Regions from separate parts of the Homo sapiens genome. Here regions 1, 3 and 4 are each linked to region 2. The links come from fine-mapping of genetic effects on gene expression. A gene starts in region 2. Each other region holds a variant in brackets. All regions are shown on one strand. Distances are between the middles of the regions.

Region 1 (4,220 bases), 590 kb before region 2:
ATAACAGATAGCTCTGCACACAGTAGTCTGCACGTGCAGGACAGGCTACTTTTCCTCCTCTTTCATCTTCCCATCTCACACTCCCAGGTGAGGATCTTGGGATTCTTTGCTTAGCTCTGTCTATGAGTTTTTCACTTACTTTTCTAGAGTTTAGTCTCTCCAAAAATAAAACATTGTATATATACGTACATGCACACACACACACACACACCCCTTTCATTTTATCTGTCACTCAGCTAATACTTATTAAATACTATTATTATCCCTATTTTACAAATTGGATAAGTAAAACATAAGGCAAGGGGGATCTCTGTCAGCACCCTCAATTTTTTTAGCAAATATTTAATCAAATGTAATTAGCATTATGGAGTCAGGCCCTATGTTAGATATTGAATATTCAGGGCTGAATAAGACATGGAATGGTCTTAGAATGGAAGAAGGCGGTGGGAGTCATGAGTTATTCATGAGAGATTAAATAAGTTCCCAAGATCACATGTTAGCATATACATATCTACCTTTTAACAGCTGATAGTACTTGACAGTGTTGATATATTACAGTTTACCTAACCATTCCCATTGTGATGGACATTTTCAACTTGTGATTATGTTTTTACCATCACAAACAAGAAACATCCTCTCACAAAGATCTTGGCATACATGTGTAGCTACAATTTGCAGGATGAATTCTTAAAATTGGATTGCTAGGACAAAGTGTAGAGCAATTTAAATTTTGATAGATCATGTGAAATATATCTTTCGGGAAGTTCTTGCTGATTGATGCTCCTGCCCTTGGGGAATGAACATGCTGTGTCCCCAGAACCTCTTCTACACCTCGCCCTTAACCTGCAACAGCTGTGCCTCAGATCCGTGTGTACCAAACACATTCCCAAGAATAGTCTCATTGAGCACCGTTTGGGAAGGGCTGCCATGTGGACAGCACCCCACTTTTTTGTCCCTGATGGTTTAATGCTTTATGTTTTCACACAGAGTGCATTTGGGGAGACTGGCTGGAGGCGGGCTTTGTTCTGCTCTGAACAACACAAGGACAATTCATCTATCTGAAAGGTAACTTGTATATTGATCCAGAAACATTGCAGGAGTGTAGCTTTTTCATTGATTATTTGATAATGGGTCATTTCATTTTTATCTACTCTGACTTCTCTAACTCAGATAAAAAAACAGGTAACCCTGAGCACATAATTCATCTCAATGGAAAGCATTTTCCTGCCAATTTACATTAGCTCAAAAAGTGGCCCTGCAAACCTCTAAGTCATTCAGAACAATACATTCCAGAGATGGTCCTTCCAACCTGCCTTATTCTTGTTTAACATTTGGGCAAGAAACTAAGCGAGCATTTAGTTTGAAGCAAATTGCATCTCATATTTCCTTGGAATGAGGCAAAAGCAAATCTGAACCATCTTTCAATGGAATGAGCCCACACTGACAAGAGCACTTGTAATCGCTTCCATTGTGTATTCTTAGCCAATTTACAACTACATTCATTGAATTAATAACGATCAGCTGGGACTCGCAAAGGCCTAATACCCAGGGCTCCCTTCTGGGGCTGCTGGCCTGACATTTAAATATTTATTGATGATAATTGGATGACAG[A/T]TAGGGATGGGCTCAGACAGAAATAAATTCAATCTGCTTGCACAGGCAGAAACCACGTTATAGCCATGATTCCTCCTCAGGCCACATAGATACAGTACCAAGAGAAATGAAGGTGAAGAGTCCTCTGATAAGCTGTGAAAACTAAGACAACGATTCTTATGATTATTTGCATGGTTGAAAGACAACTCCTTAAGACTAATTTTTGTTTTTGTTTTTTTTTAATGTGTGTTTTTGTTTGTTTGCTTGTTTTACCAAACTGTCAATAAAGACACGAGAATTTAGAATTCAAGACTTTGCTTTCTTGGATTCTGGGTTTTCCTTCCTATTCTAAAAATGTTTGAAATGGGCACCAAGTATTCAATCTGTGTACAGATCATTAAGATTTTGTGTTTAAGATCTGCCAGGTTATGGTGCAGTAACAAAGAACCCCCAGATCTCAATAACTGAAAACCACAAAGGTTTTTATTTCATGTTCTACACCACAGGTCCCTCTCAGGCTGGCAGGGCATTCTGCCCAGCACAGTCACTCAAGGACACAGGCTGATGGAGCAGCCAATCACCACTTCCCGGGGGAAAAGGAGAGCTCTGGAGAATCTTGCATCAGCAAGGAAATGGTCTGGCCTGGAAGCAAACCACACTAACCATGACCACAGAGGACCTGCTTAAGATTGCTCTGACCTTAGGTCCTTTCTCTGCTTCTCACTAACCATGTGGCTTGAACATGTCACTACAACTCTTGGAGGCTCAGATTCCTTATCTGAAAAATGAGAACAATACAAGTTAGTCATCAAATTGCCCTGAAGGATAAATGAGATAATAAATATATAGAACCACATACTAGAGGCTCAATAAATGACAGTATTTTGGGGTTTTTTTTAACATGTTAAAGAAAAGACTTCCATGGAACCCAGTGGGCTCACAAGGATGTGTGCTTTTGCTCACTTGCACCACATTATACACAAAATTCTTGAAAATATATAATAAGCCACGATACGTACATGTCTCAAGGCTCTCACTGCCACAAACTGTAGTTTCTGACAGTTTAATTTTGTATGTAGGAAAAGGTAACCTGCAAGTAACTGAAGAATTCACCCAGAGTTGTTCCATAATCAAGAAGGTGTAACACCCAACTTTGTGTCTCCTGACTTCCACTGTAATCTACCATCTCATTGCTATGCGCTTCCTTTCCCGCATGTGGGAGAGAAGGAAGAACAGTATACTATGCCCCAGGACAACATCTTTCACAGCAGGCTTTTAGACAAGAATCAGGTAAGTCCAAAGGTTATTGTCATTATTTATATGCAATGATCACTCTTCACAGCTGTATTTTCTATGATAACTAAGAAAAATTAAAGAGATCAAAAAATGATTACAATTATAATTATGGCTCACATTTACTGAGAATTTACCCTGTGCCACTTCCTATTTTATGAACTTTTTAGGATTATCTCATTTAATCCTCACACTAACCCTAAAAGGTGGGTTACATTATTATCCCATTTCGCAGGTGAGAGAACTGAGACACCCTGAGGTGAAGTGTCTTGCCCAAGGTCTCCTGTACAGTAAGTGGCAGAGTTAGGATTCAATCTCAGGATATTGTATTTTGGAGGCCATGTTCTTAAACTCCTCAGGATGGCTATAATATACAGTTATTATTTTGAAATCTCACTTACCAGAAAAAGGAAATGATGGCTAATACAATTGCTCTATAGGTTAAAGGACTGTGCTAAGAACCAGAGGTTCATTCATATTGTTTTATTCTCATCCATGATTACACTCACCATCTCCCTAGCAGCAGATAATTAAACAGCAGGAAAGTTCTTGAGCAGATAAAGAAAGATCAGAAGGATAGGGTAAGATTGGAACATAGAGAATATGATCAACTGATATTTACTGAATGAGTGAATGGGAAATTCATCATCACTAATTGAAGAAAACTCAAACTATTAGTAGTCAACTGCATTCCTTTTATAAATGAAATTCATTATTTCAACTGTGTCAGCCCTTCAACACAAGCTACGCATGCCAGATTCTGCATATTGAACCTCATTGTACCACCGATTTTTTTTTTTAATAAACCAAGAAAGACAGTTTATGGAACAGAGTGTTTTTAGGAAGTGTCATAGGGTGGAGGAAAGAGAAGGAACTCCTGCCCGTCTTCAGGGAGAGAAAAAAGTCCCCGTGGATGGAACAGGAGGGCTCCATCAGGCCTGAGAGGTACTTTTGCAATGTTATGGGACCAATAAATTAGAAAGGTAATTTAGTACCTATTATTTGATTTCTCACCTAAAGGAAATTGTAAAATTTCAAATCTGTGAATTTCAGGTAGGACCAAGTCATTTGTACTTCCCCAAGATGTCACAGCTTATGCTCTATCAAACAAAACAAATCTCTTTCCAGATGAAGACAACAGCATTAAATGTAATTCTCTGTGTGTTTTAAAATGAATAACCAATTAGCAATTATTCAGTCATGAACAAACAGAACTTACTCTGTTCCTCTTCCTGAATTCTCAGAAATACTTGGAATTTAATGGGATGTAATTTATGAGACAAAGCCCATTTTTTCTTTCACATGACAAAATGGACTGCAATGAACAATTTCTGTGA
Region 2 (4,220 bases):
GAGAGTCAATGTCTAAAAGGGAGACTATTGTTGTAGAAAAGTAAATGATCATTATTCAACTTTACCTTTTATGGAAACACACAATTTCCTAGTATGAAATGTTTATAAACTTGAGGTAGGCCAGGCGCAGTGGCCCACGCCTATAATCCCAGCACTTTAGGAGGCCGAGGCAGGCGGGTCACCTGAGGTCGGGGGTTCGAGACCAGCCTGACCAACATGGAGGGACCCCCCCCCCCCCACCACCACCACCACGAAAAATACAAAATTAGCCGGGCATGGTGGCGCATGCCTGTAATCCCAGCTACTCGGGAGGCTGAGGCAGGAGAATCGCTTGAACCCGGTAGGCAGAGGTTGCGGTGAGCCGAGATAGTGCCGTTGCACTCCAGCCTGGGCAACAAGAGCGAAACTGCGTCTCAAAAAAAAAAAAAACCTTAGGTAAACAAATCAGAACTTTGGAAGCTGACGAAAGCTTTTTCTTCTCAGGCCCTGTGCCCAAGTAGTTAATTGTATCAGTCTCATTTTCTTCAGAATTAACTGAGCCTTCTCCCATTTCTTCCCCAGAATCCTAGAGACAGCCTGAGTCACTGAGGTCCAGGTGTCCTCATTGCGCAGCAACCCAATTCCCAGAGTCACTTTACAAACATTCCGCAGTCTCTGGAACCCGCATGGCGAACTTGAAGGGTAAGGCTGAAACCTAAGTCCCAGCCTCCACCATGCGTCCCCGACTCCCTGGACCTGAACGCCTACTGCTCAGAGGGCAATCGTTTTAGTGTTTCTATTTGAGCACCCGATAATTCAGAATAAACTCTCAAACATGTTGTGAAAGCCCCCCGGTAGGGCTCTGCACGCTAGGACCAACATTTTGCCACACCCACCATTTCCTGGGCACAGACAGTCTGGGCAGGGAGGGGCATTTGATTCGGAAAAGCTTAGAGTTTGCAGTCTTTGCAAAGCCGGGTCATGCCCACTCAGGCCATGGGGCAAGCACCATTTTCTGTGGGATCAGCAACCAGACAGCGGCTGCAGCCCGGCCGCAGCTGGTCCCGGTGGAAGAACTCATTCGCGCTCCACAGCGAGATCTCCTCCAAGTCCAGCCTCAGCTGATGCTCAAAAGGGGCCGGGCCAGCCAAGCTGTGGGTCCCGGGAGGCGCCCTATGCAGTCCTGGGAAGTCCCTTCGCTCCCCCGCGGCCGTGATCTGGGGAAGGGTGACGGGGCTCCAACCCCAATTAGAGAAACTGGAGCGGCCGTCTGGTTTGCTGAGCGAGCCCCTCCGCCTCCCCTCGCAGCGGGACCTGGTGGGACTGGGGTGACCAGACTGCGGCTCGTCACCGGATGGGGCTTACTCTGGGGCCGCAGAGCGCAGGCGGCGGAGGTGCGACGGCGGCGAAGCCCACGAGGCTCCGCAGAAGGTGGCCCGTGCCGCCCCGGGGACGTGTGTGGGTCTCGTAAGGTGCTGCCAACCTTCCCCGAACGCCAGCGCCCTCGATAATCAAAGGCGACTGCCCCGGGCCCAGATCGCTGCCCGCCGCCCCGCTCCTGGAGGGCAGAGCACAGGCTGTGGGGCTCTCCGCGCGCGCCCCGGCCCGGTCCCGGGGAGCCGAACCCTCTCCGGACCGCGCCCCAAGCAGCGCCCGGGCGCCCTCTCCCCTGCCCGGCCGGAGCCGCGTCCCCCGCGCCCCGCGCAGCTCACCGCTCGTTGGCTGGCTCCGGACGGCTGCTGGCGAGGAGGTGCTGCGGGCGCCGGCGGGGCGGTGGCTCCGAGCCTCAAATACTCCCAGCCCCGCCCGGCCCGCCTCTCCCGAGGCGGGGCGGCGCCCCTGCCCAGCCAGTCCTCTCCCCGGACCAGGCTGGGCGAGCCCCGCGCCGGCCAGACACCCCGAGCCGCCGCCGCAGGGGCGACCAGGAAGCTCCCGACGGGGAGAGCGCGGGCACTGAGGGGCGCGACCTCCGCTGCCACCGTTAGGTTCCGTGGCGCTCCCGGGACCTGGGCTGCGGCCGCGTCTGTCCCCCGCCCTCTCCAGAATCACCTGAGTGAAGAATTCGCTGAGAGGAATTCAATTAATAGGTTGCTTTATTTGTAGAATACAAAACCAAAAATCTTTTCAATGTCTATTCCCTAGGGAACTGACTACAAATTGACTACTTATTCTAGATCAATAGGCCTAGTCTCAAAGCAATTCCCTTATAAAGCAATTAATCAGACAACTCTTTAACACATTTTACACAGGAAATTCACATTATATATATATATACCCTCCTTTTAACTTCACCTTATCTTTTTGTTGGAAGAAAGAGATAAGTATTATTATCTCATTTTTACTGTCAGGGTGCTATAGTCTGAATGTTTATATCCCGCCAAAGTTCATATGTTGAAATCCTAACCCTCACGGTGATGTATTAGGAAGTGGAGGCCTTGGGAAGTGATTAGGTCATAGGGGCAGGGTCCTTATGAATGAGATTGGTGCCCTAATAAAAGAGGCCGGAGAGAGACCCCTTGCCACTTCCACCTTGTGAAGACACAGCCAGAAGGCTCCCTCTGTGAACCAGAAAGCAGGCCCTCACCAGACATCAAATCTGCTGGCCTGGATCTTGGATTTCCCGACCTTCAGAACTGTGGGAAATAAATGTATATTGCCTATAAGCTACCCAGTTTATGATATTTTGTTACAGAAGCCCAAACAGACTAAAAGAGAAAATGATTTACTTATCCAAGCTCACTCATGTCTAGGAACAAAATCCAGAAATCCTGGCTCTTACACTTTACCTGGAAAAGCACCAGGCCAAAGAATCCTTGCAGGTTGGAACAAGGATCTCTGAGGAAAAAAAAAAAAATTAAGGGGGGTAGGGGAAGAATCTTTGCAGGGACTGGCTTATGTAAACTATGGAGAAAACCAGGTATCATCTGGTTCCTAAATAATTCCTGTAGCCCTTATAGTAACCAATTAATAACATAAAGATAAATTATTTCCTGCAGTTTTTCAACTTAGGGAAATGTTCCTGTGAAGGACTCACTTGATGGAATTGAGAAGCTGTCTTGGCATTCTCTAGGATAAACTTGAAAGTGTCTTAGTGGTTGGCACGGTTCCTGCAACATCGTCCCCTCTAGGCTTGCACATAGAAGTCACAGTGTGGCTGGGGATTATTTATGCAAGTTTGAACTCTTATCTGAAGAGGTAGCCTGGCAACCAATTTATTTGAATGGATCACCCATAGTAAATGACTAACCTCTGGGTAGTAAAAAGGTATCACCCAAAGGAATGCCCTTGGTCTCCAGGGAAAATGCTATAAATCTTAAGACTTTGAGTCATGAGGCCTCATGGCCAGGAGTGGTACCCTTAGAGGGTTAGCCATTGGTAATAAGAAAAGTAGATAGCCAAATGAATTGCTGTGGAGGCAAGGGATGAATCACACTCTTGCCTTTTCTTCTGGTCATTTCAGAGATAGACAAAGTTCATGCCCTGGCTACTTAGGGGGCTTGCTTACACCTGATTGTATGATCAGACATGCTTTTGGCTTCCCTTCCTTACTTGTACATCCCCATGAATACTTTGGTGCCAACTTCATGCCCCATAAAGCTAACAAAAGGATCCTGCTATGATCAGGGTGTGCCTGGGAATTTATAATTTGTACACATGCAATAAACGGCTCTTTATTACCCAATCCAAAGTCACATCCCTTTTCTAAGATAAGCGTAAAAAGGAACCCAATAAAATCAATTAAGATATCATTGAGTAACTTCTATGTACAGCTCACTGTGTTATTTGAAATAGGGACAAGGCAAGTGTTAGCCCTCAAACAAAAAGGCTGTCTGGTTTCTACGGATGCAGAGATTGTAAGCCGCTGATAAAAGCAAGGATTCTAAGAGAGGCATCTCCACAGGAGGGAAAGGAGGAAACTTGGGAAAGCAGGTGGCTGTCCAGAAGGTCAGGAGGGAAGCTGCGTGAGAACTTCAGTTAGAGCCAGAAGAGAGTAGGAGATGAAGATGAGAACAAAAAGGGAAAGTCTTTAAGGATAAGCAGAAAAGAGAAAGAAAGACAGTAATTGGAGAAGAAAGCAGAGCCGATTATTTATTTATTTATTTTATTTTTTTGAGACGGAGTTTTGCTCGGCTCACCGCAACCTCCACTCCCAGGTTCAAGTGATTCTCCTCCTGCCTCAGCCTCCCCAGTAGCTGGGATTACAGGCATGCACCACCACCCTGGCCAATTTTTAGTAGAGA
Region 3 (4,220 bases), 25 kb after region 2:
GAGAGGGACAGAGAGAGAGGCAGGGAGGAAAGAAGGAAGGGCCCAGAAAGCTTCAATCCAAGATTTGCTCAAAAGACTGCCAGCAAAAGTTATGTGCCAGCATTATTATAATTTGGTACCTAGCACAGCAACACATTGTGTTTTCAGTTATAGGTTTTTAAATTTTTTTATTTTCATTTTTGTTTATTCTTTTGAGACAGAGTCTCTTAAGCCTCCCAGGTTCAAGTGATTCTCCTGCTTCAGCCTCCCAAGTAGCTGGGATTACAGGTGTCTGCCACCATGCCTGGCTAATTTTTGTATTTTTTTTTTTTTTTTAGTAGAGAGGAATTTCACCATGTTGGCCAGGCTGGTCTTGAACTCCTGACCGCAAGTGATCCACCCGCCTTGGCCTCCCCAAGTACTCGGATTACAGGCATGAACCACCAGGTTAAAGAAAAAAAATTTTTTTTAATGGAGGCTGGGTGCAGTGGCATACTCCTATAATCCCAGCACTTCGGGAGGCTGAGGCAGGAGGATCACATGAGCCCAAGAGTTTGAGACCAGCCTGGCCAATACAGTGAGACCCCCATCTCTAGTTTTAAAAAATAAAAATAATAAAATAATAAAAATAATGGAGATAGGGACTCCCTACATTGCTCAGGCTGGTCCTGAACTCCTGGGCTCAAGTGATCCTCCCACCTCAGCCTCCCAAAGTGTTGGGATTATAGGCATGAGCCACCATACCTAGGCTGTTTTTAATTATAGTTAAAAAAAATTTTTAAATCAAATCCAAGTATATTTAAATATAAAATTCAAATCAAATGTATTAAAAAGATGAAATTCAAATCACCAGTGACCTCACAATCACTCCTGGCAGTCTTCAAGAAATCATGGAAAACTGAAGAAGTGGTAGGTGACCAGGGATGAACAAATGACCTGAATGTCGAACCAGTGGAAAAGTCAAGCACAGCATGCCTGGTCCCATGGAGAACACACAGGCTTGATGAGTAGATAGCAACCTAGGTTCACATCCTAACTCTGCCAGTTACCTGAGGTCCTGCAACTAGCGCCTTGCCAAATCCACAGCCCCAGTTGCCTTGTCTGTAAAACGGGTACAAGGCCATCTGCCTCAGAGTTGGTGGCAGATTGAGAAGATAGCTAAAATTTCCAGTACAGTTAGCCAGCCCCCAGCCAAATGTTAGGTTTCTTTTCTGCTCTATTCCATAATGCTATACAATATGCTGGATTTAGAGAGGATATGCCCGCCTTCAGGAAGGCATGCCTTCTGACTGTTTTTCCAGAGGCAAAGATGAATTTTTATCTCACCATCCACAACCACACGTGGCCCTCATTGCTTGAATGAGACATTCCAGATGTCAATGATACCGTACACAGGCCCCTGATAGAAGCATTCCACACAACTGGAGGTGCTAGCCATCCTTGCCTTGTAGAGAAAATGATCAGAATGTGAGTGGAGCAGGCCAGTCACCCTACTTCCTGCTTCCACCACTATAGGAGCAGAACATAAATGTGTCAAAGAAGGGAAGGAGCTGCTCTTGCCTTGCTGGGTTTCTCCTTCCTTCTCTTTTCTGTTGCTCCCAGCCCAGCTCAGGAAGTAGGAGAAAAATAACCAAAGGCAAGGAGACAGAAAGCATCTATTTCCCCATTCTTTGACCACAGGAGTGAAAACAAGTGTCTC[A/G]TTGCTAATTAAATGTCAGGTTGGTGATGTCCTGGTGGGGTGGTGTGTACACTTTGGAGACAGGTGTGGCTGTCACACCAGGGTGTTAGTCTCAGTGTTTTTCAGTGGAAGCTCCCCAACTTGATCTGTCTGAAGCATTTACTCATAGGGACCAGAATTTAGGTCTCAGGGTCCAGTGTCCCCTTTCAGATCATGACCTCAAAGAAATGGTTTTGAACTGCAAGGAAAACAAGCCAGGCTACCAAGGCTTGTCTGTGAGTCTTCAGGTGCCAGGAAGCCTGCCTCTCAGGTGCTGCTGATCTCTAATAACCTGGATTTTCGTCTTCCAGTTTCAGAGATCTAAACCACTCATGCCCTGAAAATATCTCAATTCCAAAGCATTTCTCTTTGCCTGGGTAAACTGGGGTATAAACAGCTACCTTCTGCTTTGATAAATTCTGTTCAGCTAGGAATTCGAAGACACCAGAAACATGGAAAAGACTTGCTGAGAAGTCACTGCCCCATAACTTTTTCCTGATCTTAAGGGTCAGCCCAGGGCTAAGCTGACCCTGTATAGCACTGACTGGCCTTATGTGCTGGCACTGGGGCTGCATTCACCTTTATATTTCACGCTCACAGAGTAGGGAATGCTTCTGTGAACTGGCCTTGAAAAAGCTTTACAGAATCCACAGTCTAGATGTTCTCTGCCTGTCCTGTTTGCCTGTTATGTTTCAAGAATGTGACCCGACAGCCTCCACACCCAGATGACTCAGCCCTAGCTTTAACGAGTGTTTTTGAGGCCTTTCTGGGGCAGGGCCTCTTCAGTCATGTCGGCCAGGTGCTCCCCAGGCTAGCACTGCCCCGCCCCTGCGTGATCCGGGATGGGAGTTTGGAAACTGCTCCCCATAGGCGGCCGGAGAGGAACGTGAATCTTTGTCTGTTTCACTCCTCAGCAGCTCACTCTTGGCCCCAGGAGGAAAACGAGAAGGTTAACCAGGCATAACCCGGAGGTGTAAGTCAGAGGTTAGGAAAAACGTTATGTGGTGGGATTGGTTTTAGAGCTGGCCACCTGGCTTCCTGTTGCTTTGAGAAAAAGACAGGTTGATATCAACTAGGGGTTGTGTGAAGAAGCCTGTCTTTTAGCTAATTGGCCTTTGATGTGTGGGACATTCAAGTTGCTCAAAAAACGAAGCCAAAAAATCAAAAATGGCTAAGCTCCTGGGGGTAAAATGGAAGAAATAAATAATACTTAGCAACTCAGAGATTCTCAGAGACTGGCTAAAAAAGAGATGGAGGAGAAAAAAAGATTCCTGTGCTCTAGAGCCATGACAAAACTGGATAAACAGCCTCAGAAGAGATATTAATGAGTTATCTTTAAATGTGTGCTCCTTTTTGAAAAGGAATTGCTTAGGGAAGGTGTATGTCTTAATTACTACTCTTACTAAATGGGAAAACTTTAGCCGATTCTTGCTCTTTGGTAAAGATGATTAGGTGTTAAAAATTCAGGCCTCCTTGCAAAAATGCAAATACACTCCATTTATTAGTGAGCTGTAACAAAAGCAGACTTAAACAATAATTTTTATGAAAAGAGATGAAATGCAAATGCAATTCACACATTCACCAATGATTCTTCGGTTTGCTGCACGTTGTCTGTGAATCATCTAACACGAAACAGCTGTAAGGCCTCTCTGCTCTAAGGACATAATGAGTTCTGCCAGGAACTGCAACCCAGCTTGTGGTCTAGTTGTTGACAGAATTTGCATAATACGTGCTCTTGCCAACCAGGCCTACCCTACAGGGTCGCTATTCATGCCCTCCTGCAGGCCCTGGGTGGACGTATTTGGGGCTGGCTCTGGCCCCAGCAGGAAGCACAGGCCTCCCGGTTGCTCTTGCCAAAGTGTTGCCTGATTCCTGGCCACACTCATAGGTTTGTTTGCTTTGTTGGAGGAGGGCCTTTTAATCTGATATAATTTCAATGTTGCAGAAAAATTACAAGAACAATGGAAGGAATTCCTACAATCCTTTATCCAGAGTCACTGATGGTTTCCATTTTTGTCTTAACATTCTCTATCCATAAATATGTATGTGTGATATATATATGTATATATAGCAACATTTAAGAGTAAATTGTTGGTTGAGCACAGTGGCTCATGGCTGTAATTGCAGCACTTTGGGAGGCCAAGGCAGGAGGATTGCTTGAGGTCATGAGTTTGAGACCAGCCTGGGCAACATAGGGAGACCCCTGTCTCCACCCAAAATAAAAAAGTTAGCTGGACGTGGTGGCATGTGCCTGCGGTCCCAGCTATTCAGGAGGCTGAGGTGGGAGGATCACTTAGGCCCAGGAGGTTGAGGTTGCGTTGCAGAGTGAGCCATGATCGTGCCACTATACTCCAGCCTGGGCAACAGAGCGAGACCTGTCTCAAAAAAAATAAAAAGTAACTTGAAAACTTCAGTGTGCTTTTTTTTTTTCTTTTTTTTTGAGATGGAGTCTCACTCTGTTGCCCAGGCTGGAGTGCAGTGGCACAATCTCGGCTCACTGCAACCTCTGCTTCCTGGGTTCGGG
Region 4 (4,000 bases), 240 kb before region 2:
CCAGCCAGCTAAAGTTTTGAGACTGGTTCAGATATGTGAGATGAGCCTGAGGGTTTAGTAACCAGAGGATATTTGGGAGTGGCGCTAGGAGAGGAATCGGAAAAGATGGCTCTAGAGTAGAACTGTTTGCCAAGGAAAAGAAAAAGGGGAGAAAAGAAATGAAGTGCAAGGAGAAACTTGAGAAGAGGGTGCTCAGAGCTAAAAACTGCAGTGGCCATTAGTTTGCTGGCAGAGAAATTCAAGGGGCAGTAGAAAGTCCTACTCCTTTCACCCTTGCAAAATACTGACTTCTGGGCAGGGTGGGGCCTAGTAAACTTGAGAGCACCCCTAGTCTGAGGGGCTCTTTGTTTTTTTGTTTGTTTTTTGAGACAGAGTCTCGCTCTGTCGCCCAGGCTAGAGTGCACTGGCGCCATCTCGGCTCACTGCAAGCTCCGCCTCTGGGGTTCACACCGTTCTCCTGCCTCAGCCTCCTGAGTAGCCGGGACTACAGGTGCCCGCCATCACACCCAGCTAATTTTTTGTATTTTTAGTAGAGACAGGGTTTCACTGTGTTAGCCAATGGTCTCGATCTCCTGACCTCGTGATCTGCCCGCCGCAGCCTCCCAAAGTGCTGGGATTACAGGTGTGAGCCACCGCGCCCGGCCTGAGGGGCTCTTGGAAAATGTAAATTGCTCACTGGAGACCAAGTGGGAAACCCCATGGCGTATCTTCCAATTTAATAAAGCCCTAAAAACAGTCCCTGGAGCATAAATGTTAGCTATTATTATTGCTTAATCCATCTGGGAAGCACAGGTGTCTGGGAGGAATGAGGGCTGCTTGCTTCTGTAAAAAGTGAGTCAACGGTGCAGACCTGGTGAGGTGCGTTGGAAGCCAGTGCTAGCCATTCATCATTGTGAAGGCTGTGGAGAATTTGGGACCATAGGCTGAAATGGCAAGCTATACGATTCTAGGCTCTCATTTCTGCCTGCTATTTATTTCGACCTCTCCTATTTTCCCCAAAGTCGTTATCAGTGAAACCCTTAAATGAACCAAGGCATCGTGTGCTTATCTTGGGGGCAGCAGCAGGGAGAGAGCGGCACCTTGGTCCCACCCTGTAGCTGGTTGCAGGGCAGTTCCCTGGAAGGCAGTGGGTGGGGGTGGCTGCCTACAGGGAGGACATGCAGCCTGGCTGCCCTGGAGCAGGAGCTGAGGGGCATTTGAAAGGGAGGGGAAAAAGAAGCAGAAAGGCGGCCGGGCGTGGTGGCTCACAACTGTAATCTCAGCGTTTTGAGAGGCAGGGGTGGGTGGATCACTTGAGGTCAGGAGTTCAAGACCAGCCTGGCCAACGTGGTGAAACCCCGTCTCTACTAAAAATACAAAAATTAGCCGGGCATGGTGGCAGGTGCCTGTAATCCCAGCTACTCAGGAGGTTGAGGCAGGAGAATCGCTTGCACCTGGGCGGTGGAGGTTGCAGGAGCCAAGATGGCGCCACTGCACTCCAGCCTGGGCAACAGAACGAGACTCTGTCTAAATAAAAAAAAAAAGAAATGCAGAAAGGCTTCTGAGGTTTGCTGACTCGGTTCCCTGTGCTGAGGTGCCAGCAAAGAGGATGAGGCCTAAGAAAGGGTTATTGGACTTGGCAGTGAGGGTGTTATTAGGGACCTTTGAGAAATAAAAATTGTTTTCTCCTGAAATACAGTGCAGAAATATACAACATTGCCTCTGAATATATTCTAAACAGTTGTGCCTCATTCTGTGCTAGAAATGTGTCCTAGAAAATTGTGGTGATATTTTTAAATATGTACAGGAACCCACTGAGTTTTCTTTGTATACCATTTATTACTTATTACACTAAATAATATCC[A/G]GAGTATACATCAAGTGGCTTTTTGTTAGAATTGTCTCATTGGAGTGCCGTGTATTTACTTCGTAGACACTGCAGTTCTTTACAACAGGAAGTCAGACTTAGGACCAGCATGGGCCATCTCAGTGAATAGGTTTTTTTCCTATGCACGGTCATCACCAATGAAGTAGGCAGACTTGTGGGAAAGTGTGGTATCATGATTTTATTTATAACTTGGGTGGAGATTATTTGGGTAAAGGAAAACGCAATCATATGTCAACACGGAGTGCTGCATAGACTTGGGGAATGAATGGGGTGTGCGGCGTCCCTCATCCCCTCAGGTGAGGGCCTTCAGGAAGATGGCATATTTTCTGGTGTTGAGAATGGTTGTTATCCTAAAGAGACCCTCATTGTCTGCACACAGGTCAGGGCCCTTTGAAGTACGAGCAGACCTTGAGGAGTCCATGGAATTTGTGGATCCCGGAGTTGCTGGAGAATCAGATGAGAGCGGAGATGAGCGCGTCAGCGATGAAGAAACCGACCTGGGCACAGACTGGGAGAACTTGCCTAGTCCCCGGTTTTGTGATATCCCTTCCCAGTCTGTGGAAGTCTCCCAGAGTCAGAGCACCCAGGCGTCCCCACCCATCGCGAGCAGCAGTGCAGGTGGGATGATCTCCTCTGCAGCAGCCTCGGTGACCTCCTGGTTTAAAGCTTACACTGGACACCGTTAACGAGCATGGACCAAAACATACCAAATCTGCATCAAGAAAGTTCTTCTCCCACTACACTCTAGTAAACATTTTCTGTTTAAGTTAAGATAGTGTCTGGAACAAAGAGGTTAAAGTGTTGTTTTGTTTTGTCTTTTTAAGCAGGGAGACAAACATTTCTATTTGCCAAGTGGCCTGTGATGGTGACCAACATGCTTATGATAATTAAGAGAACAGGGGTCGAAGGTCTTTCTACCCAGACCAGTGCTGGTGGAAGGAGGACCTGTGCGTGTGGCCAGTTCTGCCAAGGAAGCAGTTGATTTGGGTTCCCTCTGGGCCCGGGCCACCGGGCCCACAGATATGGGTCAGTGTGCTGGTCCTTGCGGTGCTGAGACTGTTCCTGACACTTTAAGTTTTAGAGGTTGGTTGAATCACAAGAGGTGATTCTTGATTATTAGGACATGAAAGATAAAAGCTCTTTAATAAGAGTTTTTCTGCCATTGTTTTTTGTATGAGAACCAGCAGGCAATTTAAAATTTCTAATTTGGTCCTTTGATTTTGTTTGGGAGGGGTGAGTTACACGTATTTTATTCATGCTGCTCTGTCGTAGTTTGTCAGACATTCCTGTTTTTCTTTCCCCCACACACCAAAGAAAATGAAAGTCTTTTTCTTTAGGACCCACATCCATAAATGGAAGAAATCCTGGCTGCAATAATGTCTAGAGAGTTTTTAACTATTTTCTTGTATTCTGAGGGGAATTAAGCTTATTCTTACCTAGTTGAATTCCTGCCATCCACACTATGAGCATTTTGAAATTGAACTTATATTTTCTGGGTGAAAATAAGTCATGAAGGTCATTCCCTTATGTAAGCTCAATGCCTGCCTGGGCACAGGGGAAAAGCCACTTAGTTAAGTGGCCTCTGGTCATTCTTGTGGTGTCCACTTTCTTTCTATGGGATTGAGTAGGTGGCAGGTGTTTTCAGGGGAAACCATCCTACTTGTTTCCCCGAACTCTTTGTTGCTCTGAGGACACAGCTTTGCTCAGAAATGCAGCGCAGATCCTTACGGCTGATGCTACTCTGCTCTGTTCTGGGGAAAGCACAATATAAAGAAAGAATTTCCCAGCCAGGCGCAGTGGCTCACGCCTGTAATCCCAGCACTTTAGGAGGCCGAGGCAGGCGGATCACTTGAGGTCAGGAGTTTGAGAGCAGCCTGGCTAACATGGTGAAACCCTGTTTCTACTAAAAATACAAAAAATTACCGGGTGTGGTGGCGCACGCCTGTAATCCCAGCTACTCGGGAGGCTGCGGCAGGAGAATCGCTTGAACCGGGAGGCAGAGGTTGCAGTGAGCCGAGATTGTGCCATTGCACTCCAGCCTGGGCAACAAGAGCGAAACTCCGTCTCAAAAAAAAAAAGAATTTCCCTCAGCAGGAGATCATTTTCAGCTCACGTGTCTTGTCATTCTTTTAGTGA

Alleles and levels. Alleles are on the strand shown, and positions count from the first base shown. SD is a standard deviation of normalised expression in the study named. Not every link is listed here.
For the expression in esophagus muscle of the gene that starts at base 1,740 in region 2, allele T in region 1 goes with a lower level than allele A (moderate effect, 0.58 SD a copy in GTEx).
In carriers of allele A in region 4, the expression in tibial artery of the gene that starts at base 1,740 in region 2 tends to be higher than with G alone (moderate effect, 0.55 SD a copy in GTEx).

Evidence for each region. PIP is the estimated chance that this variant, and not a neighbour inherited with it, causes the effect.
Region 1: its variant is the best candidate, but not a certain one, in a credible set for the expression of LGALS3 in esophagus muscle (GTEx, PIP 0.65).
Region 3: its variant is the best candidate, but not a certain one, in a credible set for the expression of LGALS3 in nasal epithelium (TOPMed, PIP 0.63).
Region 4: its variant is the best candidate, but not a certain one, in a credible set for the expression of LGALS3 in tibial artery (GTEx, PIP 0.89).

What each region holds. Positions count from the first base shown.
Region 1 is chr14:55,719,571-55,723,790 of GRCh38, reverse strand. It overlaps LOC124903320 (a long non-coding RNA gene), which reads right to left. Exons shown (of 2, transcript XR_007064179.1): 2 at 2,056-2,368. Among named protein-coding and RNA genes, the nearest start is that of LINC00520, 75 kb to the left of the region's middle. The variant A/T (reference allele first, on the strand shown) is at 1,612.
Region 2 is chr14:55,126,772-55,130,991 of GRCh38, reverse strand. It overlaps LGALS3 (galectin 3), which reads right to left and starts at 1,740. Exons shown (of 6, transcript NM_002306.4): 1 at 1,692-1,740. RefSeq lists an enhancer at 905-1,094 and a silencer at 1,445-2,044.
Region 3 is chr14:55,101,590-55,105,809 of GRCh38, reverse strand. It overlaps LOC124903318 (a long non-coding RNA gene), which reads left to right and starts at 2,481. Exons shown (of 3, transcript XR_007064178.1): 1 at 2,481-2,669. RefSeq lists an enhancer at 2,365-2,659 and a cis regulatory region at 2,135-2,813. The variant A/G (reference allele first, on the strand shown) is at 1,679.
Region 4 is chr14:55,368,169-55,372,168 of GRCh38, reverse strand. It overlaps ATG14 (autophagy related 14), which reads left to right. Exons shown (of 10, transcript NM_014924.5): 10 at 2,244-4,000. The coding sequence ends at 2,550. It also overlaps a transcript of FBXO34 not described here. Among named protein-coding and RNA genes, the nearest start is that of ATG14, 42 kb to the left of the region's middle. The variant A/G (reference allele first, on the strand shown) is at 1,844.